Linked DNA regions of Homo sapiens: regions 1, 2, 3, 4, 5 and 7 are each linked to region 6. The links come from fine-mapping of genetic effects on gene expression. A gene starts in region 6. Each other region holds a variant in brackets. All regions are shown on one strand. Distances are between the middles of the regions. Region 1 overlaps LY75-CD302 (LY75-CD302 readthrough). Region 2 overlaps LY75-CD302 (LY75-CD302 readthrough). Region 3 overlaps LY75-CD302 (LY75-CD302 readthrough). Region 4 overlaps LY75-CD302 (LY75-CD302 readthrough). Region 5 overlaps PLA2R1 (phospholipase A2 receptor 1). Region 6 holds the start of LY75 (lymphocyte antigen 75). Region 7 holds the start of LOC124906083 (a long non-coding RNA gene).

Region 1 (4,069 bases), 35 kb after region 6:
TCAGAGGAGGGAGGGAGTGTTTCTGGGAGTATAATCAGGAAAAATGTCATAAAGAAGGCTGATTCTTGGAAGGTAGGTATTATTTCAAAAGGCAAGATAGGAGAAGGAGAAGGAGCCAGAAAAAAAACAGAACATAAGCAAAGGAACTAAGACCAGAATATACAGATATGGTCAAGGAGAAATGAGTCATACAAATTAGCTAGAAAATGGAATTTGGATATGAAATTGGAATGTCCTTGTTTGCAAGGGAAGGAGTTTGATCTTAAGTAATTAAACACAACCAAACAAAAAACAAAAACAAGGTGCGTGTGTGTGTATTTATATCTACACACACTCACATATACCTGCATATATACATATATACACAGAGAGGAAGGGGTTGGCCAGGCTGGTCTCGAACTTCTGACCTCAGGTGATCTGCCCACCTCAGCCTCCCAAAGTACTGGGATTACAGGCATTAGCCACCACACCCAGCCCATTATCAGTTTTGATTAAGTGTGAGTCTGCAAATTTGTTCAATAATAATAAAGTCCAATTCTGCACTTTTGAAAGAGACTTAAAACAAAGCTTGCCAATTAGTACTTATCCAGCTCTAAGACTATAATGTTCTTTTCCTGGGAGGAAGGGGCCACAAAATACTACAAAATTGTGAAATTCTAATAAAAATCCTTAAAAATTTAAAAATTTTTTAAATTTTTTAATTTTAAAAATTAAAGCAACTAGCAACATTTTCATTGTGCAACAGATAAAAGTTAGTGCTGAGTAGCTGGTGGCCTCCTGAAATGGGGCCTGACTCTCCAATTTGCCAGGTCTCTAATTTATTACTTCTTGACCCCACTTCACTTGCTTATGTTATGTGCTTGTCTTATATTTACTCAAATAGCAATTGAGTTAATAATCACAAGTCATGTGATCATCTTAATAGGTACTGAAAATGCATTGGGTAAAATCCACTATTCATTCCTGGTTTAATACATAAATATACACTTATATTTAGTAAATATAACTAATATGTAAATTCTTATTTGAATAGAAGAATAGCTCAAATTAATAGCCATATCACACTTAATGATGAAGCATTGTTAAGTGCATTTCCCTGAAAGTCAGAAAAAGGTAAGTATCCCTATATCATCACTATTGTTAATCTTGGTTTGAAATTCAACTCCTGCACATTAAGATAAAAACAATACTATAATGTGTAAATGTTTATATATATTAAGCAGAGGAAAAGACAGATTATCAAAGAGTAAAAAATATACTATTTACATTTAAAACTAGACTGCAAAAAGGGTAATGGCTATTATATCTCTAGGAAGTAAGATTTTGAGTGATTTTTAAAGTCTTTTCTATGGGCTGGGTGTGGTGGCTTATGCCTGTAATCCCAGCACTTTGGGGGCCTGAGGTGAGAGGATTGCTTGAAACCAGGAGTTCGAGACCAGCCTGGGTAGCATAGGGAGACCCTATCTCTATTTAAAAAAAAAAAAAAAAGAATTAGCTGGGCATGGTGGCACACACCTGTAGTCCTGGTTACTCAGGAGGCTGAGTCAGGAGGATCACTTGAGCCCAGGAGTTCAAGGATACAGTGAGACAAGATAGTGCCACTGCACTCCAGCTTGGGCAACAGAGTGAGATGCTGTCTGTAAAAAATAAATGAATAGAATGTTTTCTTTGAAAATTTCTATATTTTCCAGATTTGCTTTTTGTTTTGTTTTTTGAGACAGTCTTGTTTTGTCACTCAGGCTGAGGTACAGTGGCATGATTACAGCTCACTGCAGCCTCAACCTCCCAGACTCAGGTAATCCCCCCACTTCAGCCTCCCAAGTAGCTGGGACTACAATCACATGCCACCACACCCAGCTAATGTTTGTATTTTTTTGTAGAAACGGGTTTTTCCATGTTGCCCAGGCTAATCTCAGATTCCTGGCT[C/T]AAGCGATTCACCTTCCTTGGCCTCCCAAGGTGCTGGGATCACAGATGTGAGCCACAGTGCCTGGCCCAGATTTGCTCTAATATAGCTTCTGCTGTGTTTTTCTCATTAGAGAATGTAGTTTCACTACAGTGTACTGGGAATCTAATGCAAAATATGATACCTGTGTTCCATAAATATTTATTTATTAAGCATCTATCGTAGAATCTCAGGTATTCTAGACATCATTGTCCAGTGTTAGAAATTAATATACAAAATTTCACTGCAGACTGACCCAAGGCAATTTGTATATACTAAATACTAACTCTTGGGTTCTTTGTGAGGTGAGTGTTAGCTATTCCCTCAACCTTGAGAATAGATTATAACAAATGCAAAATTCAGACCAAAATTTTCCACACATACAGACATTTGCTATGCAAACATTCATTGAAGCAGACACAAAACATTTTATACAACGTGTTTTGTAAGCTTGACAACATTCCAGCAATCTGTCCTTTTTGGTGTTTTAACTATCACCTTGCACAGATTTACTTGAAGCAGATGTGGCAGTGTTCTGTGGCAGCATTCTGTTCCCATTGTAGTGAGTATCAGGCCATCACAATCACCTGACCCAATGACTGGATGTGGGGTTGTTTCGAATCAAGCCCTACTAAGATACAGGCTGCGGCCTCGCAAGATTCTAATACACTCTTGAGAAGTGTGAGAGTTTCTCTAAATATTTTAGCTAATCCCTGCATCTCAAATAACTTATATTTCACCAGTGAGAGCCCAATCCTACCATCATGCTGATGAACAAGCTTCCGATTTCACTGACATTAACCCAGTTCTCACATTCATTCTGCTCATGACCAAAGCCTCCAGTGTGACTTTGGTGATCATGGAAGTCCTCATGGTGGCCACCTCTGGACCATGGCCTTTCTTTTTCTTTTTTTTTTTTATTATTATACTTTAAGTTCTAGGGTACATGTGCACAACATGCTGGTTTGTTACGTATGTATACATGTGCCATGTTGGTTTGCTGCACCCATTAGCTCGTCATTTACATTAGGTATTTCTCCTAATGCTATCCCTCCCCCATCACTCTGCCCCACAACAGGTCCCGGTGTGTGATGTTCCCCGCCCTGTGTCCAAGTGTTCTCATTGTTCAATTCCCACCTGTGAGTGAGAACATGCGGTGTTTGGTTTTCTGTCCTTGCGATAGTTTGCTCAGAATGATGGTTTCCAGCTTCATCCGTGTCCCTACAAAGGACATGAACTCATCCTTTTTTATGGCTGCATAGTATTCCATGGTGTATATGTGTGGGGCATGGCCTTTCAAATACACCACCAATACTTCCTGACATGTAAGTTTCAAGCAGGGCAACTTAATGGCCCTTAGATTTCAAGCTTGACACACACAATATCATATTATCCAGATAAAGTATTTTTAAGTAAAATGCTGACATAAGCTCTAGATTCCAAGCAAGAGGTTAGTAACTCTAACTGGAACGAGGAGCCATGGATAAGTACTAATGAATGAGGTTGTAGATATTTGTGAGAAACAATAAGTAGAAAACATTGGAATATCATATGTGATAGAAATGACCATTAAGAGCATCCATATACAGAACGAATTACACTAGGAAACAAAACATGAAAGGAAATTTTTATGATTTGTTTCTTTGTTTTGAATCACACTTGTTGAGCACTCCCTTCTTTAAAAAATTAATACAAGTTCATTATATAAAATTTGGAAAATATAAAAATGAGTAATGAAGCAAACAATCACCTCAAATCCTAGCTCCTGATTATAAACATAGTAAACCCTTAGTGTAAACCCTTTCTGTTTACTTACATCTCTACACATTTAGCTTTTACAAAACCTATTTTCCATAGAATGTACTATGTTTAATTTTTTTCTAATCATAAAAGTAATGCACATTGAATTTAGAAAACAGAACAGCACAGAGAAAAAACAAATCTCCTTAATCCCTTCACTTATAGGAACTGTATTTTATTTGTACTCTGATCCTAGCAGTTAACACAATGCCATGGTAAGCAGACTGCTTTGTTTGCTTAATAACTTCTCCATAATAAAGAAATTGTTTGCCTGTGCTGTGCTTAGAGAACATATTCTAAAACCAAAATTGTAACCATGGCTTAAAG
Region 2 (4,069 bases), 45 kb after region 6:
GTCTCGAATTCCTGGGCTCAAGCCATCTGCCAACCTTGGCCTCCCAAAGTGCTGGGATTACCAGCATGAGTCACTGTGCCTGGCCAAAAGTATCCTTATTGGAGGAAATTATTTGTTTGGAGAAACCTCTAGAAAATCCTTGCTATTATTCCACATTTATATTATAAGGATATATTAGTGTAATAGTTATAGGAGCAAAATTATTCTCAGATATTCAATATTTACTCCAATTTTTGTCACCAAAAATTGGTGACTCCAATGTCACCTCCTTTTTTATTCTTTCTAAATGTAAAACTCCTTGAGTTTATTTTCAAATTGGAGCATATCTGAGATTAGTTAATCAAATAATGAGCATTTCAACACATGCAAAAAAAGAAAAAAGTATTTTGCAAACCTGATTCTCTATGACTCCAGCGGCGAACTTAATACACTATTAACTTCCACTTCTGAAACTGTGGCTTCCTTTGTTTGGAAACTTATGACATTATGACATTTGCTAAGTCCTCTCATGATTTAGCATCATGATATAAAAAAGAGATGGAAAAGTTTTCTTTCTGTGGCATATCAACGCACTTGAGTGATTAAGGCTGCCTAAATTACATCTAAATTGCAAATATTTATACATCAGTCTTAAATTCTCAAGCCTCTCTTGTCTTTTCAGGTGTCTACTATTATCATGCCAAATGAGTTTCAGCAGGATTATGACATCAGAGACTGTGCTGCTGTCAAGGTCAGTACAATGCTGGAAAATCTGCATATTTAAAACATAAGTCCATCATCATATGCAGTCAAGTAACAGATCCATGGAGTGTCTTTTTATGTGAAGCATGATGTTAGATGCAGTGAGAGATAAGCACACCCATGGCCTGGCCCTCAGCAGCCTAACTTACACTTCATTTGAGAGGATAAAATTCATATTCAAGAAAACCTCTCTCATTACCACGCAGTAATATGCTCCAAATGAGGGGGCTGAGGAAGGCTAATGAAATTCAGAGGAGAAAGTGAGTCCCATGGCCATTTCCCAGGAAGAGGTGGGACTTGAACTGGGACTTTAAGGATGGATAGAGTTTCTACAAATGGGATAGGGTAAGGTTTTTTCATGAGGGGATGGTATGAGAAAGTGGTATAAAATAAGGTGGAAGTGGAAGAGGGCAGTGGAGAACAGAATACAGATCAAGAAGTTTCATTGGTGCTGTCCTTGATAACAGTATTAGGAAATCAGATTGATGCCACTTTAAGGAATTTCTACACTTCTTGATAGGCAACAGGGCATTTTTTAAAGTTTCTGAGTAGGGAGGGTCACATGAACTAAGGAGGGTATGAGGAAGATTCATCTTGAGACAGATGTCAAAAGCAACAGGTAAGATTGGAAGGCATAGAAGACCAGTGAGGCATCTTCCTTTGCAGAATGCATTCATGTATCCATTTCATAAACAGTCCAAGGAGTCAGTGAGGCACTGGGTGATAGAACAATGACAAGGTACAAAGCATAGCCATTGTCTTCACAAAACTAAAGTCTAGTAGGAAATAAAGACAAGTAAACAAGCAATTACAACACCACTGAGTAAAGACTATGACATGCGAAATACAAGTTTTATGCAAGAACAAGAATATTATGAAAGAATAATAAGGATGGTGATGGTGATGGTCCATGGTGGTGGTGATGATGATGATGGAGCAGCTAACACTGATTAACTCCTTTATGAGCCAGCCACTATACTAGGCATGTCACATATGTCACATAGCACATAAGCAATCTTGTGAGGTAGGCACTGTTACTGTATTCATCTCACATGGAAATTTGAGCTGTGAGTAATTTACCCCAGCTTACATGGAGTAAATTTAAACTGAAAGAACTGAAATTTACACCCATGTGTGTCTGGGTCTGGTACTCTTAACCACTATGCTATATGACTAGGCATTTATAGAAATAGAAAGGGTATTGATTTATGAGAAAATTGTATGTTTTAGTTCAGATATTTTGAATCCAAGCTAGCTATAA[G/A]ATGTATGCTATGGTAAGTTGAGATCAAGAGTCTTGAGTTGAAAGGAAAATGTATATTTTTAAAAAAAGGGCCAAGAAGTGGATTTGGAGGAACTGCCAATATATAGAGTGAAAAAAGATGAAGATGGAGGAGACATCAGTTAATATCTTTGATTTGTAGTCCAAGAAAGAGATTCAACAAGGTGGCTGACCAGAAATGTTACAGGAAGGCTGAGGGATATAAGAACTGACAAAACCACAGGAAAGCACTGTTTTCAAAGTAACTCTTCTAGTAATAAACTGTGTAGTACATGTCATTTTTATAGAATTCCCAATGTAACACAGGAAAAGGTGAAAACTTCAGAGAAGCTTATGGAATTTTTAGTAGTGTTGAGAACACTGGTACAATAAACTGTGTTCTAGGGAAATAGAGTTGCCAAGTATGGAGAGATTTGAAAATCTACCAAATAAATAAAGAGATACTAATGCAACCTGCATCAGGAACAAGCCCAGCCAGGGCAGTGTTCTGTAAGGAAAATCTTACCTCACCTGCCACAGAACCCCCAGAAACTTGGTCTTAAGAGAAAATAGTCTAAGAAGTGATGGATGTCTCTCCCAAGTAATGCCTTCCCCTATCCTTTTTATCCTACTTGCTGACTGGAATTTGTAATGAGCCATCCTGGACCATGTGGAGAAGGGCAAAATCCTAGAAATGGCATGGTAACACCAGAGAAGGAGCCTGAGCCACTGAGGCTGGACCTTTATGTCGCTTTCTGATCTAATTTGATCACAGCTTGGTGCTTGGATACCTCTGAAATAAATATTCTAACAAAAATTGTCAGGTGTGGGGGAGAAAATTTGCATTTTGGACATAAACATGACTTTACAACATATTTCCTTTGTTAGCCCCTTTGAGGGCTCTTGCTCAGGGTATTACTGTTTAAATATTCCATTAATTCATGTGTTCATTTATCGAACAAATATCTTAGGTGCTAGAGCTAAAATAGAGATCAAAGTCATAGGGCTTACAGTTTAGTGTTCCATAAGGGATGTATCAACTTCAAAATATTCTGCAATACTTTTCCTCTTATAGGTATTTCATAGGCCATGGCGAAGAGGCTGGCATTTCTATGATGATAGAGAATTTATTTATTTGAGGCCTTTTGCTTGTGATACAAAACTTGAATGGGTGTGCCAAATTCCAAAAGGTAAGTGGTAGTTATTCCTTTTCACAACCTTCTCATGTTAACATTGTGAATGCCTAGCTCAAAGTAGCTAGGGGAGCATTTTGATCTATAATTCTGATGTCTAAAAGCCTATGATGATGATGCAATTAATATGTGGAGCACCCCCTGCCTGACTCCGGCTTCTAATAGAAGGCTAGCTTATTGAAATTTAGTGATATCTTACTCTTTGATCATGGAAGAATTTGCATAGAAGATAAAATGTGAGGCTCATTCAGGGAGATTAGATTTTGGATGAAATATTATTTTAAGCAAAAGGAGAAATGCAGAATCATTTTCGTTTTTATTTTGATGCAAAATGAAAAAATAAAGATAATCTTGGGAAGAATAAGGCAGAAGTCAAGAAATAAAAATTTGGCAGGTCCCTGTAAAATTTAGAAGCAATTTTCAATGAACTATAAAACTGCTAATACTTTATATAAATTCAAATTTGAGAAGCCAGTTAGATTGATAGTATAGCCTTTGATAACAGAAGGGAGAGTGGGGAGAAATGTAGATACCATTTTACTTTACTTTTTCCAGGAAAACATGAAATATTAAGAAAAATGTTAAGACTTTAATTCTCAAATTATTATTATTATTTTTTAAGACAGTCTTGCTCAGTCTTCCAGGCTGGAGTGCAGTAGCACAATCTTGGCTCACTGCAGCCTCTGCCTCCCAGGTTCAAGTGATTCTCCTGCCTCAGCCACTGGCGTAGCTGGGACTACAGGCACCCACTACCGCACCTAGCCAATTTTTGTATTTTCAGTAGAGTCAGGGTTTCACCATGTTGGCCAAGCTGGTCTCGAACTCCTGACCTCAGGTGATTGGCCCGCCTCAGCCTCCCAAAGTGCTAGAATTACAG
Region 3 (4,069 bases), 100 kb after region 6:
CCTTCTTTCCATGACTAAATTCTTCTAAAAGTTTTCTAATTTGCACTAATGTGTTATGAGAAATTAGTCACTTAAAATGTCCCAGTGTCAGTATTTACTCTGCTCCAAAGTAGAACTCTTAAATACTTTTTCAGTTGTTTAGATCTTAGGCATGTGCTGGTATCCACAGTTAATTCCCTGCTAAATGCCATGTTTATCACCCTAATTAATAGAATGGAGGGGACTCCAAAGCTGGAACTGAAGTCCAAATTGTTTGTACAGTAATATGTTTAATGTTCATTTTCTCTGTATGAATGTGATTGGTAACTAGGATATGTATATTTTAATAGAATTTTTAACAAAACTTCTTAGAAAATTAAAATAGGCATATTACTAGGTGACATGTCTACTTTTTAATTTTTAAGAGCATCCGGCCAAATGCAAAATTAGTACCTCAAAGTAAAAATTGAACTGTAAACTCTATCAGCATTGTTTCAAAATAGTCATTTTTAGCACTGGGGAAAAATAAACAATAAGACATGCTTACTTTTTAATTTTTATTTTTTTGAGACTGAGTCTCTCTCTGTTGCCCAGGCTGGAGTACAATGGCGTGATCTCGGCTCACTGCAAATCTCCGCCTCCCAGGTTCAAGCGATTCTCCTGCCTCAGCCTCCTGAGTAGCTGGGATTACAGGCAACTGCCACCATGCCCGGCTAATTTTTGTATTTTTAGTAGAGATGGGGTTTCACCATGTTGGCCAGGCTGGTCTCGAACTCGTGACCGCAGGTGATCCTCCCGCCTCGGCCTCCCAAAGTGCTGGGATTACAGGCATGAGCCACCGCGCCTGGCCTCTGCTTACTTTTTATATAGCAAAATGATTCCTCTTGGCAAGATGTTTCTTATATTATTCCAAAGTTATTTCATACCATTATTATGTAAATATGAAGAGTTTTTTTCTGTTTATAATTGTTTATAAAACAATGACTTTTAAAGATTTAGTGCTTAACATTTTCCCAAGTGTGGGAACATTATTTTTAGATTGAGTAGGTACCTTGTAGCAGTGTGCTTTGCATTTTCTGATGTATTACATGACTGTTTCTTTTGTAAAGAGAATCAACTAGGTATTTAAGACTGATAATTTTACAATTTATATGCTTCACATAGCATGTCAACTTTTGACTAAGAATTTTGTTTTACTTTTTTAACATGTGTTAAACAGAGAAAGGGTCCATGAAGGAAAGTGTATGAGTTGCATTTGTAAAAATGAGACTTTTTCAGTGGAACTCTAAACCTTGTGATGACTACTAACAAATGTAAAATTATGAGTGATTAAGAAAACATTGCTTTGTGGTTATCACTTTAAGTTTTGACACCTAGATTATAGTCTTAGTAATAGCATCCACTGGAAAAGGTGAAAATGTTTTATTCGGCATTTAACTTACATTTGTACTTTATTTTTGTATAAAATCCATAGATTTATTTTACATTTAGAGTATTTACACTATGATAAAGTTGTAAATAATTTTCTAAGACAGTTTTTATATAGTCTACAGTTGTCCTGATTTCTTATTGAATTTGTTAGACTAGTTCTCTTGTCCTGTGATCTGTGTACAATTTTAGTCACTAAGACTTTCCTCCAAGAACTAAGCCAACTTGATGTGAAAAGCACAGCTGTATATAATGGTGATGTCATAATAAAGTTGTTTTATCTTTTAAGTAAAAGTAAAAGTGCTGGAGTTGATCCTTCTTGAAAAAAAAAATCTCTAGATTGGGTTTTTTATGTTAGGCATATAGTACAAGAAATAAATTGACCACCTATTGTAAAGCGAGGCATTTGCTAAGAGATTTTGTGTGCATTTTTTAGAGAATAAATAGGCGGGTAGTGGCTCACACCCGTAATCCCTCTTGACACTTTGGGAGGCCAAGGCAGGGGGATCATTTGAGCCCAGGAATTCAAGTTCAGCATGGGCAACAAAGCAAGACCCCATTTCTAAAAAAAAATAAAATAATTAGCCAGGTGTGGTGGCACCCATGTGTAGTGCCAGCTACTCAAGAAGCCAAGGCAGGAGGATCCCATGAGCCCAGGAGTTTGAGGCTACAGTGAGCTATGAACGTGCCACTGAACTCCAGTCTGGGTGACAGAGCAAGACCCTGTTTTGAAAAACAAGTCGATATTGATCCAATTGCTGAATACTGGAAAGGCAAAGTCAGATAAAACTGGATTCTCGGAATTAGGAAACCAATGACCATCTTAGCCAATGCAAATGTAGCAGAGTAGTGAAGCCAGAATCCAGATGGAAGTGAGTTTAAAAGTGAAAGGGAAGGCCAGGTGTGGCATCTCGTGCCTGTAATCCCAGCACTTTGGGAATCCGAGGTGGGTGGATCACCTGAGGTCAGGAGTTTGAGACCAGCCTGGCCAAATGGTGAAACCCCATCTCTACTAAAAATACAAAAAAAAAAAAAAAAAAAAA[AAAAAAT/T]TAGCCCGGTGTGGTGGTGCATGCTTGTAATCCCAGCTACTTGGGAAGCTGAGGCGGGAGACTCTCTTGAACCCAGGAGGCAGAGGCTGCAGTGAGCTGAGATCGTACCATTGCATTCCAGCCTGGGTGACAGAGCAAGACTCTGTCTCAAAAAAAAAAAAAAAAAAAAAAAAAAAATTGAAAGGGAAATTAGGAGATGAGGAACATGAGATTTCGAGAAGTATGATGGAGACAGAAAGGAAAGGGGCTGGGCCATAGCCAGAGGGGAAAGAAGGGTTGAAAAAGGGTTTTTTTCTAAAGGGGAGAGAAAGAGGTTCACAAGTTTAGAAGCTGAGATGAAAAAAACAAAAACAAAAACAAAAATAATGGACAGAGAGAAGTTGATGATGCAGTGGGGAGAGGGAATCATTAATGGAAGATCTTGGAGAAGATAAAATGAGAGGGGCAGTCCTAAGCAGAAAGAGGAACTGGTTTGGGTGGGCTGGAGAAGCATGCCTTCCTCTCTGAGACCACAAGAGAAGAACTGCAGATAAGCATTTGAAGATGTTTGTCTATATGTAATGGCACCTGTTTTCTTGTGTACTAGAAGGCAAGGTCTGCTGAGAAAGATGGGTAGCAGATGGGGTCTTTTAAAAAGTTTTTTAATTTTTTAGAGACAGGGTCTGTCTCAGTTGCCCAGGCTGGAATGCAGTGGTGCAACTCTAGCTCACTGCAGTCTCGACCTCCAACATTAACTTTTTTTTTTCCCTAGAGACAGGTGATTTCAATGTTACCTAGGCTGCTCTCAAACTCCTGGGCTCAAGTGATCCTCCCACTTCAGCCTCCCAAGTGTTGGGATTACAGGTGTGAGCCACCATACCCAGCCTGGGATCTTAGCTTGAAAAGAGTAATAAATTTGAAAGACTCAATGAGAGAAATAGGAGAGGACAGTGACTAAGGTAAAATCAAATACAAGGATTGCAGAAGAGGCATAGAAGGCCCAGATGAAATTAAAAGCCATATTGTTTATAGTGACAGCCATCGGGAGAACTGATTGATTTCCTCCACCTGTCCTCAGTTAACTTCAGTAAAGTTGAGGAAAAAGAGAGCACGGGCCAGGCGAGGTGGCTCATGCCTGTAATCCCAGCACTTTGGGAGGCCAAGGCGGGCAGATCACTTGAGGTCAGGAGTTCAAGACCAGCCTGGCCAACATGGTGAAACCCCACCTCTACTAAAAATAGAAAAAACTTAGCCAGGTGTGGTGATACACGCCTGTAATCCTAGCTACTCGGGAGGCTGAGGCAGGAGAATTGCTTGAACCTATAAAGTGGAGGTTGAGGTGAGCTGAGATAGCGCGACTGCACTCCAGCCTGGGGGACAGAGTGAGACTCCGTCTAAAAAAAAAAAAAAGCATGAAGAAGAAAGCGGAGACCACAGATTCCGAGTTGGCCAGGTGAGCACACCAGGGGAACAAGGGGACAGAGGATGTGGTATTTCGGCTGGGTGGAGAAGGGAGAAATAAAAGGCTGAGAAAAATGCAGGCAAGGGACTGAAGTCTGGCATGAGCCAAAAGAGGATGTAAGTTGGAGACAGAGTGAAGGAAAATTAAGGGTATGAGGTGTAACTGGAGAGTA
Region 4 (4,069 bases), 28 kb after region 6:
GGCTGATGTCTTTACTTCCCCCACTAATATCAATATTCAAAAATAATTCATCCAGTGAATATTATACTCTTATGATGAGCCAGCCACCCATATGAGAAGTAACCCATACTTTTTGTCTGACACAGGCCCACAGTCTTGTGGAGGTTATCTGTGAAATTGCATCCCACCCTCATCACATGTATGATTTCAATAGCCATGTCCTCAATTTCCACAAGTTCTAAGACGTTATCAATGTAGCAGAAACATGCTTGCCAGACGGGACACCATCAAGTCTGGAAAAGAGTTTGACAATATTTTTCCTCTGACTTAGGGCTGGAAGAGACATGGAGAAACCTGTTACAAGATTTATGAGGATGAGGTCCCTTTTGGAACAAACTGCAATCTGACTATCACTAGCAGGTGTGACCATCAGTAAACTTGTACTCATAAACTTTCAACTCTGAATTCTTTTGCCAAACAGTCTTCCTAAGTAAAAGGTGCATCTTCAAATAGAGTCAATCATTGTGAAACACTTGCCAATTTGATTCTCCTTTTGTAGATTTGAGCAAGAATACCTAAATGATTTGATGAAAAAGTATGATAAATCTCTAAGAAAATACTTCTGGACTGGCCTGAGAGATGTAGATTCTTGTGGAGAGTATAACTGGGCAACTGTTGGTGGAAGAAGGCGGGCTGTAACCTTTTCCAACTGGAATTTTCTTGAGCCAGGTGAGTGTCTTAATCTTTGAAGTAGTAGTATACTGTGACTAGTGAAAGGCAGCACTCCTCCCAAAGATGTTCCTCACTTACTTTTGAAATGTGAGGGACATGATGATCTTCAGGATTGGAGTCTATCTATGGAACCATAAATAGAAGCAGTGGCTATGTCTTCCCTATTATGTCCTTGGGAATAATCCAATGAAAGAAATTCAAAAACTTAGTTCTCCCAAACCACCATCTAATGGCTCAGAGCTAGAAGCACCAGTGTGAGTTTTTAAAATCTTTTCCATGTAAATCTCAAATAGAATCTAGAAGCTCCCGTGTGAGGCTCTTTACATTTTCATCTCTCTGCTTCTTAACCTATTTTCAAAACTGAATGTGTTTTCTTCCATTATTCTCAATGGGTAAGAATTATGGAGGCTATCTTGTATTATTTATTTTGTTTTTGTTTTTGTTTTTGTTTTGAGATGGGGTCTCACTCTGTTGCCCAGGCTGGAATGCAGTGGTGTGATCTCGGCTCACTGCAACCTCTGCCTCCCAGGTTCAAGTGATTCTTCTGCCTCAGCCTCCCAAGTAGCTGGGATTACAGGTGCATGCCAACATGCCCAGCTACTTTTTGTATTTCTGTAGAGATGGGGTTTTAACATGTTGGCCAGGCTGGTCTCGATCTCCTGACCCCAAGTAATCCATCTGCCTCAGCCTCCCAAAGTGCTGGGATTACAGGTGTGAGCCACTGTGCCTGGCTTCTTATTTATTTTGAAAGTTATTTCCTCTTTCTCCAACCAGCCTAAAGCATTGACCATAATTTGCCATAGAATCAGAACACTTAAGCCGGAAAGGACCTCAGAAATACTTTTAGAGTTAAGAAAACAGAGACTTTAAAAGGTGATTTACTTGACAAAGATCATCTGGTTATTGAATTAATGAAATCCAGAGTTCCTGATTTTTAAGCCAGTGGCTTTGAATAAGACAGCAGTATAAAGCATTCTACTTTTCACCCTGTGAATTATTTATATTTTATTGTGTTGGTCTAATGTGATCATGAAGACTATTTTTTATAACACAGAGATTGGAAAATATGAGCTTACAATTGAACATGTTATTTGAAATAGAAAATGCCCACAAAAGTTAGGACACATGGTCATCACCATCAACATGAGTGATGTTGCTAGTAACAAAGTCATCCTTTTATGTCTGAAAAAGATAGAGTATACAGATGTTGATCCTGGTTAAATCTCAGATTAAGAACACTCTAATGGATAAAGCACATAGATTTCTTTTTTTCTTTTTCTTTTTTCTTTTTTTTTTTTTTTTTTT[TTTTTTG/G]AGATGGAGTTTCGCTCCTCTTGCCCAGGCTGGAGTGCAATGGCTCGATCTCGGCTCACTGTAACCTCTGCCTCCCGTGTACAAACAATTCTCCTGCCTCAGCCTCCCAAGTAGCTGGGATTACAGGCACCTGCCACCATGCCCAGCTAATTTTTTTTGTATTTTTAGTAGAGACGGAGTTTCACCATTTTGGCCAGGCTGGTCTCGAACTCCTGACCTCAGGTGATCTACCCACCTCAGCCTCCGAAAGTGCTGGGATTACAGGCGTGAGCCACCGTGCCTGGCCAGATTTGTTTTATAGACACTAAGAGTAAAGGTGACGTTCTTGATAACTAAGTCTTGGTGGTTGGAGAGGTGCTTGGGAAGTAGCTACCATGACTACTTCCTCCATTCTATGACCAGAAAGGCTATGTGAAGCTCTCTTTACCATTATTGCACCCATCCTCAGCCAACTTGGTCTATCATGGGCACACCGTGGATAGAAGGACTGAACAGGGAAAAATAGCACACCCATTCAGGGTAGCAAGGCAATTATTTTTCCCAGTTTCTTATTCCTCTTGCTGTTTGTGTATATGAGACTATGTGGCTTCTCTGTTTGGTGGGATAGAAGTTGTCCTATTACTTTTCAGTATATGTAACTCTTCTTGTCTTTTACCTGCTTCAGGCAGTGTGATGTAATGGAAAATGGAACATGATGTTTTGTCAGACAAATCTGGTTTCAACCCCAACTCTACCATTCACTAACTCTGACTGTGGGCAAGTTACTTAGTCTTCATTTACAAAATGGAACTGATAATTCAAACTACCTTTTAATACTGTTATGAATACATAAAATTATGACTGTCATAAAATTAACGGTAAACAAATGTATGTTACCACATACCTCCTTCTACCTTTATTGTACCAGCTTTTCCTTTGGATCAGAATCTGGGAGAGTTGTGTTTTGAGGTTAACTAAGTTTCTTAAAAACTGCTCAAAGTTTTTAAGCTAATTTGAACCACTATCCTAAGCAGCAGTAGTATTTAGGGTACAGCTCTAGAAACAGACCACCTGGGCACAAATCCTGGGGCAACCACTTACTAATTCTATGACCTTGAACAAGTCACTTCATTCTCACTGTACCTCAAATTATGACAATAGAATCCCCCCATAGGTTTGTTATGAGGATTAATCTTTTTCAAAAAGTACTTTACAAATAATAAACACCTGTCATTATTATTCTGAACAACATATTTCTTTCCTCTCTTTGTTCCATTTTTTTTTTATTCTCTCTCCCCAACTTGGCTGAAGTAAAGAGTAGAAACACTAGAAAATGTTTGAACTTTAACGTTTTAATTTTTAATTGAGCTTTCCACTTCAATCCCAGCTTCCCCGGGCGGCTGCGTGGCTATGTCTACTGGAAAGTCTGTTGGAAAGTGGGAGGTGAAGGACTGCAGAAGCTTCAAAGCACTTTCAATTTGCAAGAAAATGAGTGGACCCCTTGGGCCTGAAGAAGCATCCCCTAAGCCTGATGACCCCTGTCCTGAAGGCTGGCAGAGTTTCCCCGCAAGTCTTTCTTGTTATAAGGTAAAGTGACATTCTCATTCTATCCTTCAATGAAGTTATTTTTCCACTACCCTTGTTCATGTCCTTGTACAAATTATGCTCTTCTCCATAGTACTATGTAACCTAACTAAAGTGCTCTGGAGCACAGAGTCCTTGGCAGGGCATCGCTGAACCTCTGGTGTGAGGTGCCTCAGCCCCACACCCTGCACGTGTCCTACCTGAAAGGGCAGGCCCAAAGCCAGAAGTGGCTCCACCCCAAGGTCTTTTTTTCCCAGTAAGTTGGTGTACTATATGCCATACTGCCACTATGCCTATGATCCTCATATTCCTCTAATTCTTGTTGTCAAATTAACAGCTCCAGCACTCCTAATAATGTAAAAAAAGTGTATATATATTTACACTTTTACAAACATATATATATTTGTGTGTATATATACAAATATATATATTTATATATACAATATATATATTTATAAACATATTTACAATATATATATTATAA
Region 5 (4,069 bases), 99 kb before region 6:
AGCAATCCTCCCACCTTGGCCTCCCAAAGTGCTGGGATTATAGACATGAGCCAAATTGCCTGGCCCAATGGTCATTTTTAAAAGTATAATCCGTATGAGTCATTTGACATGTTAAAGGTATAAATTCATCGCTCAGGACCACCACTGCCTTTATTAGCAGCAAGTCCAGCTTCTCCCTCCTAATGTCTTTCTCCCCACCTGCACCCCCCACTGTCTAAGAATCTCAAGTGCTTACTCAGTTCAGAATGGTCAGTTAAACTTCAAAGTACGGTGGATGGGCACATATGGGTACATCCAATCAGTTCACAGTCACTGCCTGGGGTACCTTAGCCAGGATTCCAGCGTTAACAGCTCTACTAGTTCATCCTCAGGTGTTCAGCTCTGAATCCCAAGGCATGAAACTGTGCCAGGTTGGTCAGTACCAGAGAAGCTGATGTCTTCCGCCACAGCCTACACTAGAACCAGTCTCTGTGGAACAAGCTTCAGGCCCTTGTATTAAGCTGAGGTTGACAGCCTAGACCCAACAGCCCTTCTACTTCAGGGTGAGTTCTTGCTTGCCTGTATCTCCATCAGGGCTGTGCCAGAGACAACAGCAAAGAGTTACTAAGTTTGTATCTAGAGGAAATGGCTTAGGGGCCCCAGGCTCTTCCCTCCCTGAAGGCCCGGAGCTCTTTATACAAATTGGTCTATTCCATCCTCAGAGCTCTATATACCAAGGTAAGGAAAGTGTTTGCTAAGCCACAGGGGGAGGTATATCTCCCCTTTAGTGTGGCCTCACACTAAAATATAAAAGTGGCCACACAAGCCTTGTTTCTCATAATTACAAAAGTCCAGTCCAAGGTGGTTTGCTAATCCCAACTCTAGACAGTGGTTGGCAAAGCTCCACCGATTTTTAAAATTCAACGATGAAATCATGAATATATTCTTACTATAGATAATGTGACCATATACCTCATTTGCCCAGAACAGTTCTAATTTATGTCTGGTGTCCCAGAGCAATTAACAGCAGGTATTTTTACTCCAAATTTTTCTGGCTTGGATGGTAAATTATGTAGATGCTCTAATTATAGAGAAGTGTGCTAAGTAAAATGTGGAAGTACTCCGTTACATCTTTCTCTTCACCTTCCCAACATCAATACATTTCCCTTTTCAGAAACAACCACTGTTAACTGTTTGGTATGATCCTGCTGGTGTTTGTCTATGCATTGCATTTAAATACATTTATGCATATGTACTTTTTAAATGGATATAAGGATTGCATGTTTCTGTTATTTGATTTTTTTCACTTAGCAATCTGTCTTAGAGAACTTTCCACATCAATATTTATTAGTCGACATTTGAAACAGCTACATAGAATTTCATAGTATGTAGGACTCATAATTTGCTTTGCCATGACCCTGTTGAAGGACATTGGGTGAAATTCATTTTCATTTCTGCTACAAAAGTGTTACAACAAATATCTCTATGTTGATGTCGCTGTGCATAACTATGAGCATGTTGGCCTAAAAGTGTACATCTTACTGAGGCATTATCAGTTTACAAGTTCATCTAACAAAATTTGAGAGTGGCAGCTTTCCCACATTTTTGTCAATACTGAATGTAACAACCTTTTACATTTTTGCCAATTTGATAGAATAAAAAAAGTTTTACTATTCTTTTAATGTCTACCTTTTCATTTAGTTATTTGAGCAATTTTTCATATTTGTTCTATACATTTTGTTTTGTTTTTCAACTACATGGTCACATAATTTGATCACTTTCTATTTTTATTTTGGACACTTTCTATTTTCTCATTACTTAGTGGAAATTTCATTATATTCTAAATATAAACTCTACATGTTTGCTATTTGCCTTTTAATTTTTCTATGGTATGTTTTGTCACACATAAATGTTAAACTTTTTGTAGTAAAAAAGTTTATATTTTTCATTTTAGCTTTGTAGATTTTTATATTTTCTAAAGGCTTTGCTCAACCAAAGATTATAAAAATATAACCTTATATTTTTATAGTTTGGCTTTTTAAATGTATAATTTTGATTGATCTGAGATTTTAAAAGTATGTTCTAGGAGATAGCTCATTTTAATTTTTCTAAATAGTAACCAATTTCAACACTATATAGTAAGTTCACCCTTTCGTCTACTGATTCGAAATACCATAATAAACATAACCTACATTCTCATTTTCTGTTTCCCTGCCAATATGGCACTAACATAATTCAAGCAGT[G/T]TGGTATTGAAAAAGAAATAGAAAAAATAGAATCAATGTAGCTGAAAAGAGAGCAGTAATACAAGAATATAATTTCTATTATTCTTAGTTTTCTTGGAGCTCTTTTTTAAAATTATTAACAGATTTTAAATTTTACTCAACACTCTGAATCTACTAAGACAATCCTAAGGTTTTCTCCTTTACTCTCTTAATATGACAAATTGCTTTACAGTAGTAAACCAGCTTTGTACTGTTGGGTAAACTTAACTTAGTGATATGTATTTTAATACATCTCTGGGTTTAGTTTGCTAGTACAAAGCTTCACCTACTATAATGTACATAAGAATATCCTGTAGATTTTGATGAAGTTAAAATTCTGATTCAGTAGATCTGGGGTAAAGTCCAAGAATCCGCATTTTTTAAAAAGCTCCTAGGTGCTGCCTATGTTGCAGGTACACAAACTAACCTTTGAGTGGTAGGTTTATGATTTTAGCAACCTTTTTTCATAGGGAAAACTAGTCCACATTTCTTCATTTGTATACAGCTTTGGTTTCATGATTATGCTAAGTTTCATAGAATGAATTGGAGAGTGTTCACTTTTATTCTCTACAGAACTATATATACAGTAAACATTTATTAGAATTTGCCTTATGTTTTATATAGGAAATTTAAAAACCACTAATTCAATTTCTGTAATGCTTATAAGACTACTGAGGCTTCCTACTTCCTTCCAAGTGCTGCTTGAGTTGTATTTCACAAGATTTAGTAGAGTTTTATAATTTTTCAATTTAGAATACATTCCAATTTCCAATATGAATATGATTTCAACCCATAAATTATTTAGAAGATTTTTTTTAATTTCCCAAAATGCAGGTGTTTCTAGTTCCTTTTGTTGTCAATACCTTATTTAATTGCACTGTGGTCAAGAAATACGGTTTGTTTGGTGCCTGTCCTTTCAAATACAAAGTTGGTATTATGGCCTTGCATGTGTTCTTTTTATATATATATATCCCATATGTACTTGAAAAGATTGTATATTCTGCTTTTGCTACCTGAAATGCTTCATCTATGTCAACAGATTATGTTAAATGTGTTGTTCAGATCATCTATAGCCTCAATATTTTTTGCCCACGTGATCAATCAATTATTGAGAGTGTTTGATACCTCCCACTATGATGGTAGATGTGTAAACTTCTCCCTGTAGTTCTGTCGAATTTTTGTATTACATACTTTTTAGGCTGTTTTATTAGGAACATACAAGTTTAGAATTGTGATATCCCACCTGTGGTGTCAAAATCGGTATAGTAGTATCCCAAGTGATCCTCTTGTTCTTTCAAAATTATTTTCTCCTTAGAGTTAATTTGTCCATGAATGTAGCTACAGTAACTTTTTAAAAATTAGTATTGGCCTAGTACATTTTTTAAATTTTTTTCTAACTTTGAATGTTTTTGTGTTCTTAGAGTTAATGTATCACTTATAAACAGCATATAACTAAATTTTTAAAACTCTATTCACACATTCTTTGTCCTTAACTGTATAGTTTGGTTTACTTATATTTTTTGTGATTATGTATAGAATTGGATTTATTTCTTCCATTTTATTATGTCCTTTCCATTTATCCTGCATTTTTTAGTCATGTTTTCTCTTCTTTCTTGCCATCTTTTGAATGTATCTTTTTCTTCTTTTCTCATTTCATTCTTTCCCCTTTACTTATCTGAAAATTGTATTATCTAAATCTATTTTTTTATTTGTTACACTAGCTATTCAACATGCATTCTTAACAAAATCAACAATATCAAAGTTATTCATCTTTAAAAGGATTATAATTTGCTGTTGCTGTCTAGTTTTGAAAATTCTGAACTGCTTC
Region 6 (4,069 bases):
AACTTCCCACCATCTGTGCCTTAGAATAAATTCAAGGCCCTTCACAAAACAGACACAACTCACCTTTCTGCTGTCATTTCCACTGGGGCCCCCACCACAACCACTTTGATCTCTCTCACAGACACACCCCCCGCAGGGCAGCTACCCTGGACTCTGGACTGTCTTCTGACTCTGCTTGCATTTTCTGGCCTCTGCCCTGTCACTGGTTTTCTCCCACCAGCTGTGCCTGCTCAAATTCCTACCCATTCTTTAAGACCCAGCTAAGATGTTGCCTTCCCTCAACATTTGTCAGAGTTTCCCCATTCATTCTGCCCTGTGTCACTGAGTGTGCCTGTATTAGGGTTCTCTAGAGGGACAGGACTAATAGGATACATGTATATATGAAAGGGAGTTTATTAAGGAGTATTGACTCATATGATCACAAGGTGAAGTCCCACAATAGGCTGTCTGCAAGCTGAGGAACAAAGAAGCCAGTCCGAGTTCCAAAACCTCAGAAGTAGGGAAGCCAACAGTGCAGCCTTCAGTCTGTGGCCGAAGGCCAGAGATCCCCTGACAAACCACTTTTATAGGTCTAAGAGTCCAAAAGCTGAAGAACCTGGAGTCCGATGTTCGAGGGTAGGAAGCATCTAGCACGGGAGAAAGGTGAAGGCCAGGAGACTCAGCCAGTCAAGTCCTTCCAACTTCTGCCTGCTTTTATTCTAGCCATGCTGGCAGCTGATGAGATGGTGCCCACCCAGACTGAGGGCTGGTCCGCCTCTCCCAGTCCACTGTTAATCTCCTTGGCAACACCCTCACAGACACACCCAGGAACAATACTTTGCATTCGTTCATATCAATCGAGCTGACAATATTATCCATCACAGTGCCTCAGTCTCCCCAGTATTCAGGGGAGGGCAGAGATGTTGTCTTTTTGTCCTTCTGTTCCATGGCGTGCCCAGATCCTGTGATGGCAGGTGCTCACTATATCTATGGAACTGAAAGGCCAGACCCTGGGGAGAGGACAGAGCAGGTTTGGGAGCCAACTGTGAAACCTTGGCAGTGGGAGTCAGGAAGAGCAACCTAGGTCTTTGCATCCTCATGCAACAAGGATGGAGGCCACCTCAAGTACACATTATGTGCTCAGCAAAGACGAGATTTAAAAGTATAAAACATTCACATTTGAGCAACTTAGGTCATTAAGAATTTGGCCTCTTTATAATGATAGCAGTGTCCACAGGAAGAGAGTGAGTGGGACATGAAATTTCTGGTTCTGCATGCAGACTTCTACATTTCTACCAGCTAATTATTATTATCATTAAATTATTAAGCAAAGAGCTTACTCGCAAAGGTCAACTTTTTATAAAGCATAAGTCATCCTTGGAAGTGTCGTTTGGTCATTCTAGTAATTCTTGCTTTTAATTCTTTAACAACTATGGGTAGAACTGCAGTGTACCATTATTCCACCTTTGTTTGCACTGTCAAAATACCCAAGACGTTGCCAAGGACGACTGAATTCTTAGGCTTGGCCGCAGCCACCCACAGGGCAGGTGCTCACTTCCTCCTCCGGGGTAGAAGAGATCATGGGTCCCTTTCCAGTCCAGGCTGGAATGGAGAAGTCGTCCCTGACCACAGTGCGCCAGGCAGAGGCCAAGGTTCTAAACTGATAGAACCCACCCACCAGGGCGGTGCCAAGTCCCAGTAAGGGCCGCATCTCCCCAGCTTGGCTGATGAAGAGGCGGGGACCGAACCCTCCAGTGCAGGAGCCTGTCTGGTGCCTGGCTCTCCCACCGATCCGCACGTACCTCTTCCTCGCGGGTCCTACCCCACGCAGGTATCTAGCGCCCAGCCCTGTTCATTTCCCACACCTGGCCCGCTCCGCCCCGGGGCCGAGGAGACGCACGTCTGATTGGCCGAGGGCGGCGGGGGCGGGGCCGGGGCGCCCCCAGAGGCCTAGACAGAGGTGCGGGCGGGGCAGGCCGCGCTCAGCAGGCGGGGCGGGAGCCGCGTGCGCCCGAGGACCCGGCCGGAAGGCTTGCGCCAGCTCAGGATGAGGACAGGCTGGGCGACCCCTCGCCGCCCGGCGGGGCTCCTCATGCTGCTCTTCTGGTTCTTCGATCTCGCGGAGCCCTCTGGCCGCGCAGGTAACCGCGGGCACGCCAGCCCCGCAGTCCGCTGGGTGCCTCGACGCCACAGCTCTGCTGCCTTCCAGCCTGGGGCAGGGCTGCGCCCCTGGGGCAGGTCACGGCTGCTTTGCTGTTGGGGCGGGGGGGCTCTGGAGCCGGAAGAGTGAGTCGCAGGGGAGGTCTGGCAGAGGAAGCGCCCCAGTGCCCTCGGGGGCCCGGAGGAGGGCGCGGTGGATGTGGGAGGACAGGGCCCTTCTGGTGCAGAGGGGACGCGGTGCACCGTAGAGTAGGCGCACGGAGGCTTTTTTGGCCGGGTGCGCTGCTCCATCGTCGCCTCTCTTATATAATGTTGCTGGAGTATGGGGTTCCCCATCTGCCCTCTTGCGTCCCGTCCCTCCCGTTCTCGCTTTTCCTTCGGCCCTTGGTCACCTTGGCCACAGGGCCAAGAGGAGCCTCCACCCACAGCGCCAAGGATTCCCCACGATTCCCGGATTTCACTGCGCCTACGGTGCGCATCAGGAAGGAAGTCAGGTTAAATAAACCATCTCCTCCGAAAGTGACCAAGACCAAGAGTCAGCTATGATGCCCTCACCCACCGCCTAGAGCAACAAACCTTTCTTCTCATTGGTTTATCAGCTCCAAATGACCCCGCTCCCCCAAGGCTGACAGCCTCACGGTGAAGGGCAGGTCGCCTGCTTGGGGACCTGCTGCCTCTCACTGCGGAAGCAGGACCAGAAACAGACAGCCTTCATTGATGTTCAGGGTAGTGCCAGCCCCACCACACCACACCCCTTGGCAGCAACCGGTTGCTTTTACTTTCTCTTTTTGCCTGGGCGAGGGGTGTGCAGAGAACTTTGTTTCTTGGTTGGACTGCATCATGGGCACTCAATGGGCCACCCTCCACCGGCCACTTCTGTTATCGTGCCTGTATGAGGAAGGAAAAGATTGTCCAGGCAGTTTGAAAAACATTAAATTGTTGGTGGCTCTTATTTTCTTTGCAGCTAAGCTAAGTTACCATCTGGTTTAGACTTCCTTCGGAGAGCGATGGGAAGAGATTTCTCAGAGTGTGAATGGCATCATCCTATCTACAGCAAGGACCTGGAAATGAACCCTGCTCTGAGTCACACTTCTCTATTCTCCTTTGACCCTGTGTGCTAGGAACTACCAAAAGAATCCTTTAAAATAAGATCCTTTATTGCCTTGATAATTTATTCTGCCTGCCCCACAATCCAAGGTGGAAAAGTTCACTGCAGCAACTAACTACAGTGAAAATGCACTAACTTTTCAATCACTAACCTCTTGGTTCCCATCGACATCTGCTTCAGTCCTGTTTTTATCTCCTTCACAAATTTCAGGATTTCCCTAATTCTTGCAATCTCTGCAATCACTGCCCTTTATCACTGACCCAAAGCAAAAAGCACCAGGTTTAACTCTGTTCCCCCTGTGCTAGGTCCCCACAGGTTTTGTTATCCTGTATCCTTCCTTACTCCTAGCAGCTACTCTGATCGATTTTCTCTCACCCTCAGAGCAGACTTGTGGCCTTGTTTGGGGAAGCACTGGAATTTTGAACCCCCAGCCATTTGGGTCAATTGTTTGGCAAGAGTGTCCGCTTCATGATGCTGGTGATGGCATGCACCTCGTCACATGTGCACGGCTAGGCTTGTGCAGGTGGCCTCTATTACCCAAACACTGAAGGAGCCCCTCTGTGTCCTTGGAGAGATGCCAGGTGCTTAGTTTACATTTTTGCCTGCTTGGAGAGCTAACAGCTTGAAGTAAACCAATCCATCAGGGACTCCTGAGGTTTTCACCAGCCAACACCACCCAATCGTGCGTGAAGACTTTCTGACTCCCTGGACATTGCCATGGACTCAACTGTCACTTCAGGACCTGTTTTTGAACTAACAAACCTAGACTTCTGATTCTCTCTTGCTGCACCTACCTGTACATTCCGAACACATGGTAGAGAC
Region 7 (4,069 bases), 110 kb after region 6:
AATCATTGTTATTGTCTGTCATTCTGGAGGTTATTAGTGAAGTGATCTTAACCTTGTTCTTAGCTATTATTTTGAAAATCACAGTGGACAAAACATTCTTTAAATTCCTGAGTGAAAATCCATGGCATCGCTTTAAAAAGTTTTTCCGTAAGGGTGCTTAAGCACATAATAGATGATCAGTATGTATTTATTTGGTCAGTGGTTTCCTATGCCTGGCATGAGCTGAGTGAACAAGCATGTTCCGAGTAAGTCCTCATTCTGTGATCATCATGTGGATCAGAATCTAGGGATTTTGAATTGCCATGTCCTACAAGCCTTAGATGAGGTGCCTCTGCCTTCTTCCCTGATGTCATCTCTTACCACCCTTCCTGCCATTCACTCTGTGTATCCACAGAGTAAACAGTATCTGGGTACTCCAACACCTCTGGTCCTTCTGTGCACACCACCTTCCCCCAGTCCTTGGCATGGCTGCCCCCACCTCCACCATTCAGATCTCTGTTCATATGTCACCTTCTCCGAAGCCTCCCTGAACACCCACATTCTCTGTCACATGTCCATGTTTTATCTTTTCCAAGCCTTTCTGAATGCATTGTGTTTATTCATCTGTCTTGCTTGTTGCTTCTCTTACCAGGGGAAAGAAGCTCCATAACAGAGATTTTACCATCTTGTGGATTTTTGTTTTGTTTTGATTTGTGTCTCTGCACTTTATTCTAAGTTATAATAAAAGGATGAAAAAATTTAGGTGAGTTATTTAAAAAGTAGGTAGGATAAGTGGATTGCAATTTTTTTCAAATTATATTACCTCTGCTATGCACTCATTTCATAATGAATTCAAAGCCTTAAATCATCTTAATCTATTGCTGCCACCTTTTCTTTCTTTCTTTTTTTTTTTTTCCGAGATGGAGTCTCACTCTGTCACCCAGGCTGGAGTGCGGTGGCGCAATCTCGGCTCACAGCAACCTCTACCTTCTGGGTTCAAGCAATTCTCCTGCCTCAGCCTCCCGAGTAGCTGGGATTACAGGCATGCGCCACCATGCCTGGCTAACTTTTGTATTTTTAGTAGAGATGGGGTTTCACCATGTTGGCCAGGCTGGTCTCAAACTCCTGGCCTCGTGATCTGCCCACCTCGGCCTCCCAAAGTGCTGGGATTACAGGTGTGAGCCACCGTGCCCGGCCTGATGCCACCTTTTCTGACTCTTGTGTATGGCACAGTTATGTTTCAGGGGAAATTATCTCAGATTAAATATTAGAGTATTTTAAAATAAATTTTGAGCTGGGCGTGGTGGCTCACGCCTGTAATCCCAGCACTTTGGGAGGCCGAGGCGGGTGGATCACGAGGTCAGGAGATCGAGACCATCCTGGCTAACACGGTGAAACCCTGTCTCTACTAAAAATACAAAAAATTAGCCGGGCGTGGTGGCAGGCACCTGTGGTCCCAGCTACTCAGGAGGCTGAGGCAGGAGAATGGCGTGAACCCAGGAGACAGAGCTTGCAGTGAGCTGAGATCGCGCCACTGCACTCCAGCCTGGGCGACAGAGCGAGACTCAGTCTCAAAATAAATAAATGAATAAATAAATAAATAAATAAATAAATAAATTAATTAATTTTGAAATGTTAATGTTTATTTTTCTTCCAATGAAAAAGTGAAATTTCAATTAGGTATTATTTCAGGACTTCTTTTACTGTTGAGAATCTTTTAACAATTTGCTTATGTGTTGAAAACTAGTTTTGCAGCAAGGTTACTTTCCATAATTTTTATTGTGCATATCAAGTATTTCATTCCTTCTGTGGGTTATTTAGTGTTTTTTTTTTTATTATTTTATTTTATTTTATTTTATTTTATTTTATTGTTTTGAGACAGGGCCTCACTCTGTCACCCAGGCTAGAGTGCAGTGGTGCAATCATGGCTCACTACAGCCTTGACCTGCTGGGCTCAAGTGATCCTCCCACCTCAGCCCCCTGAGTAGCTGGGACTACAGGTGCATGCCACCATGCCCTGCTAATTTTTTTTTTTTTTTTTTGTAGAGGTGGGGTCTCACTTTGTTGCCCAGGCTAGTCCCAAACTCCTGAGCTCAAGTGATCCTCCTACCTCAGCCTTCCAAAGCTCTGGGATTACAGGTGTGAACTGCCACGCCTGGCCTATTTTAGATTTTGAGAGCAAATCTTGAGACCA[A/G]ATCTTTAAAAAATAGACCAGTGATGCCCAAAGAGAAAGGTACAGATTAACAATGGCACACCCCTTCTATGAATATACATTATAACAGCCCTTCTGAAGAGGGAAGTGATGGGACAATATGGAGATGGATGTCTTGAAAGCTAGATTGGGAAGAGTGATATGGAGAGGGGATGAGGTGTCAGAGTGCCTCAATTTATTTGGGATTCAGAGAGATCTTGAAGCTCAGAGTACAGCCACAGAATCTCTGGATTAGTCAGGGACTTGGAACAGCCACTCCCTCCTCCATACATTATAAATGTAATAAATAGCCCCTCTTCTTCATCTGTCTGTGCCACAGTTGCCCTTGCGGAAGTTATGTGACTACAACTCATATCTTAATGGGAGAGGAGCAAAGGTCTTATTATTGACAATGAAAATGAAAAAGAAGTCTTTCCCTTTTCCTTTGTTAACATTTAGAACAAGTATGTCCCAAGAATCACTTCCTCATGCTGTGCCTGTTTTTTTTTTCTTTTTTTAAAAAAAAGAGAGACAGAGAACTTATAAAGGAACAGAGAGTTCTATTAGATTTGACTGGTAATGCAAAGTATTCCTGTGGATATGACATTATCTTCTTTTAGCACATGATAATTTTAGGCAGAGGATCTATATAGAAACTTTTGGAGTTATGCTAAGTACAGCTTTTAAAATATTCATGAGGCTCCTGAATTTCTGTACGTATTAAAGAATTATAAAATTATAAAATCCCTAAGAGTCATTTAAGTGCATTATTAATAACAACCTATCATTCAGGACTGCTGTGAAGAAATAAGAGTAATAGGCCCTTTGCAGAGAGCTTAGTGGGCAGGTTTTTAATTATATTAGGATTATGGCAAAGATACTTAGCGTTGAAGACGACTTAGTTTAGTCTTTTGTTCATGAGGTGCATGAACGTCAACAATCTCCTCACAGGAGTTATCCAGCCTCTATTTGAGCACTGTTCTTCTCAAAGTAAAAATATATCTTTTGAGTAGTGCTTAAAACTTGTTTCTGGGGCACACACTCTGATCGGGGATCTATAGCATGAGAAAAGGGGTTCCATGTTGAATTAACTGGAGTTACTGCTAATGCTGAAATGAGCCTAAGGAGAAGGCAGTTGAAAGTTTTGGGGAAGTGAGTCAACAGTCTGTTTTCTATTTTTCTATACATACCCTGTTAAAAAAAAATTTTTTTTTGGTCTTGTCACATGCAGATGCTCCTCGACTTAGAATGGGGCTATATCCCAATAAACTTGTGAAGTCAAAAAATCGTAAGTTGTCCATTATTAAGTTCGGGACCATTTCTGTATTGCTAACTTAGTTATTCAGCAATGGTCTTTGAGTAGCTGGTTATCATTATCATCATCATAGTCATTCCCATACTGTGCAACACAGTAGCATTGTGTTTGCTCCTCCCTCTGTTTGCCTGAAATATCCATGTGACTTCTTTCCCTATCTTTTCAGACACACACACACACACACACACACACACACACACACACACACACAGAGTTGGTTCTCTGTTTCTCTGGAGAACCCTGACTAATACAATAACCAATAAGATAGTATGGAAATAAGACAGTGTGACAATCAAGGCTGGATTGTATGAAGCATTGCATATCCACCTTTGCCCTCCTTTGAATCACTCACTCTGGGGGAAGCTACCTGCCATGTCATAAGGACCCTCAAGCACCCCTGTGTAGAAGTCCACGTGGTGAGGAACTGTGGTGTCCTGCCCACAGCCAGCACCAGCTCACCACCCATATGAGTGAGGCTTCTTGAAGCTGACCTTTCAGCTCCAGTTCAGTGTTTAGATGGCTGCAGCCCTAGCCAGCATCTTCACTGTAACTTCATGGAGACCCCAAGCCAGAATCACCCAGAC

The links. PIP is the estimated chance that this variant, and not a neighbour inherited with it, causes the effect.
Region 1: its variant is fine-mapped to the expression of LY75 in whole blood (TOPMed, PIP above 0.99).
Region 2: its variant is fine-mapped to the expression of LY75 in whole blood (TOPMed, PIP above 0.99).
Region 3: its variant is fine-mapped to the expression of LY75 in whole blood (INTERVAL, PIP above 0.99).
Region 4: its variant is fine-mapped to the expression of LY75 in whole blood (TwinsUK, PIP 0.94).
Region 5: its variant is fine-mapped to the expression of LY75 in thyroid (GTEx, PIP above 0.99).
Region 7: its variant is fine-mapped to the expression of LY75 in whole blood (TOPMed, PIP 0.98).

What each region holds. Positions count from the first base shown.
Region 1 is chr2:159,868,094-159,872,162 of GRCh38, reverse strand. All of the region lies in intron 13 of LY75-CD302 (LY75-CD302 readthrough), which reads left to right. All of the region lies in intron 13 of LY75 (lymphocyte antigen 75), which reads left to right. Among named protein-coding and RNA genes, the nearest start is that of LY75, 35 kb to the left of the region's middle. The variant C/T (reference allele first, on the strand shown) is at 1,927.
Region 2 is chr2:159,857,482-159,861,550 of GRCh38, reverse strand. It overlaps LY75-CD302 (LY75-CD302 readthrough), which reads left to right. Exons shown (of 38, transcript NM_001198760.1): 15 at 662-730; 16 at 3,075-3,189. LY75 (lymphocyte antigen 75) reads left to right here. Exons shown (of 35, transcript NM_002349.4): 15 at 662-730; 16 at 3,075-3,189. Among named protein-coding and RNA genes, the nearest start is that of LY75, 45 kb to the left of the region's middle. The variant G/A (reference allele first, on the strand shown) is at 2,003.
Region 3 is chr2:159,800,993-159,805,061 of GRCh38, reverse strand. The region is part of intron 33 of LY75-CD302 (LY75-CD302 readthrough); the gene reads left to right. It overlaps LY75 (lymphocyte antigen 75), which reads left to right. Exons shown (of 35, transcript NM_002349.4): 35 at 1-1,707. The coding sequence ends at 18. Among named protein-coding and RNA genes, the nearest start is that of CD302, 4.8 kb to the right of the region's middle. The variant AAAAAAT/T (reference allele first, on the strand shown) is at 2,451.
Region 4 is chr2:159,874,963-159,879,031 of GRCh38, reverse strand. LY75-CD302 (LY75-CD302 readthrough) reads left to right here. Exons shown (of 38, transcript NM_001198760.1): 10 at 311-399; 11 at 539-708; 12 at 3,389-3,588. It overlaps LY75 (lymphocyte antigen 75), which reads left to right. Exons shown (of 35, transcript NM_002349.4): 10 at 311-399; 11 at 539-708; 12 at 3,389-3,588. Among named protein-coding and RNA genes, the nearest start is that of LY75, 28 kb to the left of the region's middle. The variant TTTTTTG/G (reference allele first, on the strand shown) is at 2,017.
Region 5 is chr2:160,001,169-160,005,237 of GRCh38, reverse strand. All of the region lies in intron 11 of PLA2R1 (phospholipase A2 receptor 1), which reads left to right. Among named protein-coding and RNA genes, the nearest start is that of PLA2R1, 59 kb to the left of the region's middle. The variant G/T (reference allele first, on the strand shown) is at 2,224.
Region 6 is chr2:159,902,640-159,906,708 of GRCh38, reverse strand. LY75 (lymphocyte antigen 75) reads left to right here and starts at 1,953. Exons shown (of 35, transcript NM_002349.4): 1 at 1,953-2,120. The coding sequence starts at 2,027. It overlaps LY75-CD302 (LY75-CD302 readthrough), which reads left to right and starts at 1,953. Exons shown (of 38, transcript NM_001198760.1): 1 at 1,953-2,120. The coding sequence starts at 2,027. RefSeq lists silencers at 1,751-1,992, 1,762-2,221 and enhancers at 2,402-2,481, 2,622-2,671, 2,892-2,941, 2,992-3,041.
Region 7 is chr2:159,792,050-159,796,118 of GRCh38, reverse strand. The region is part of intron 33 of LY75-CD302 (LY75-CD302 readthrough); the gene reads left to right. The region is part of intron 1 of CD302 (CD302 molecule); the gene reads left to right. It overlaps LOC124906083 (a long non-coding RNA gene), which reads right to left and starts at 929. Exons shown (of 2, transcript XR_007087273.1): 1 at 1-929. The variant A/G (reference allele first, on the strand shown) is at 2,174.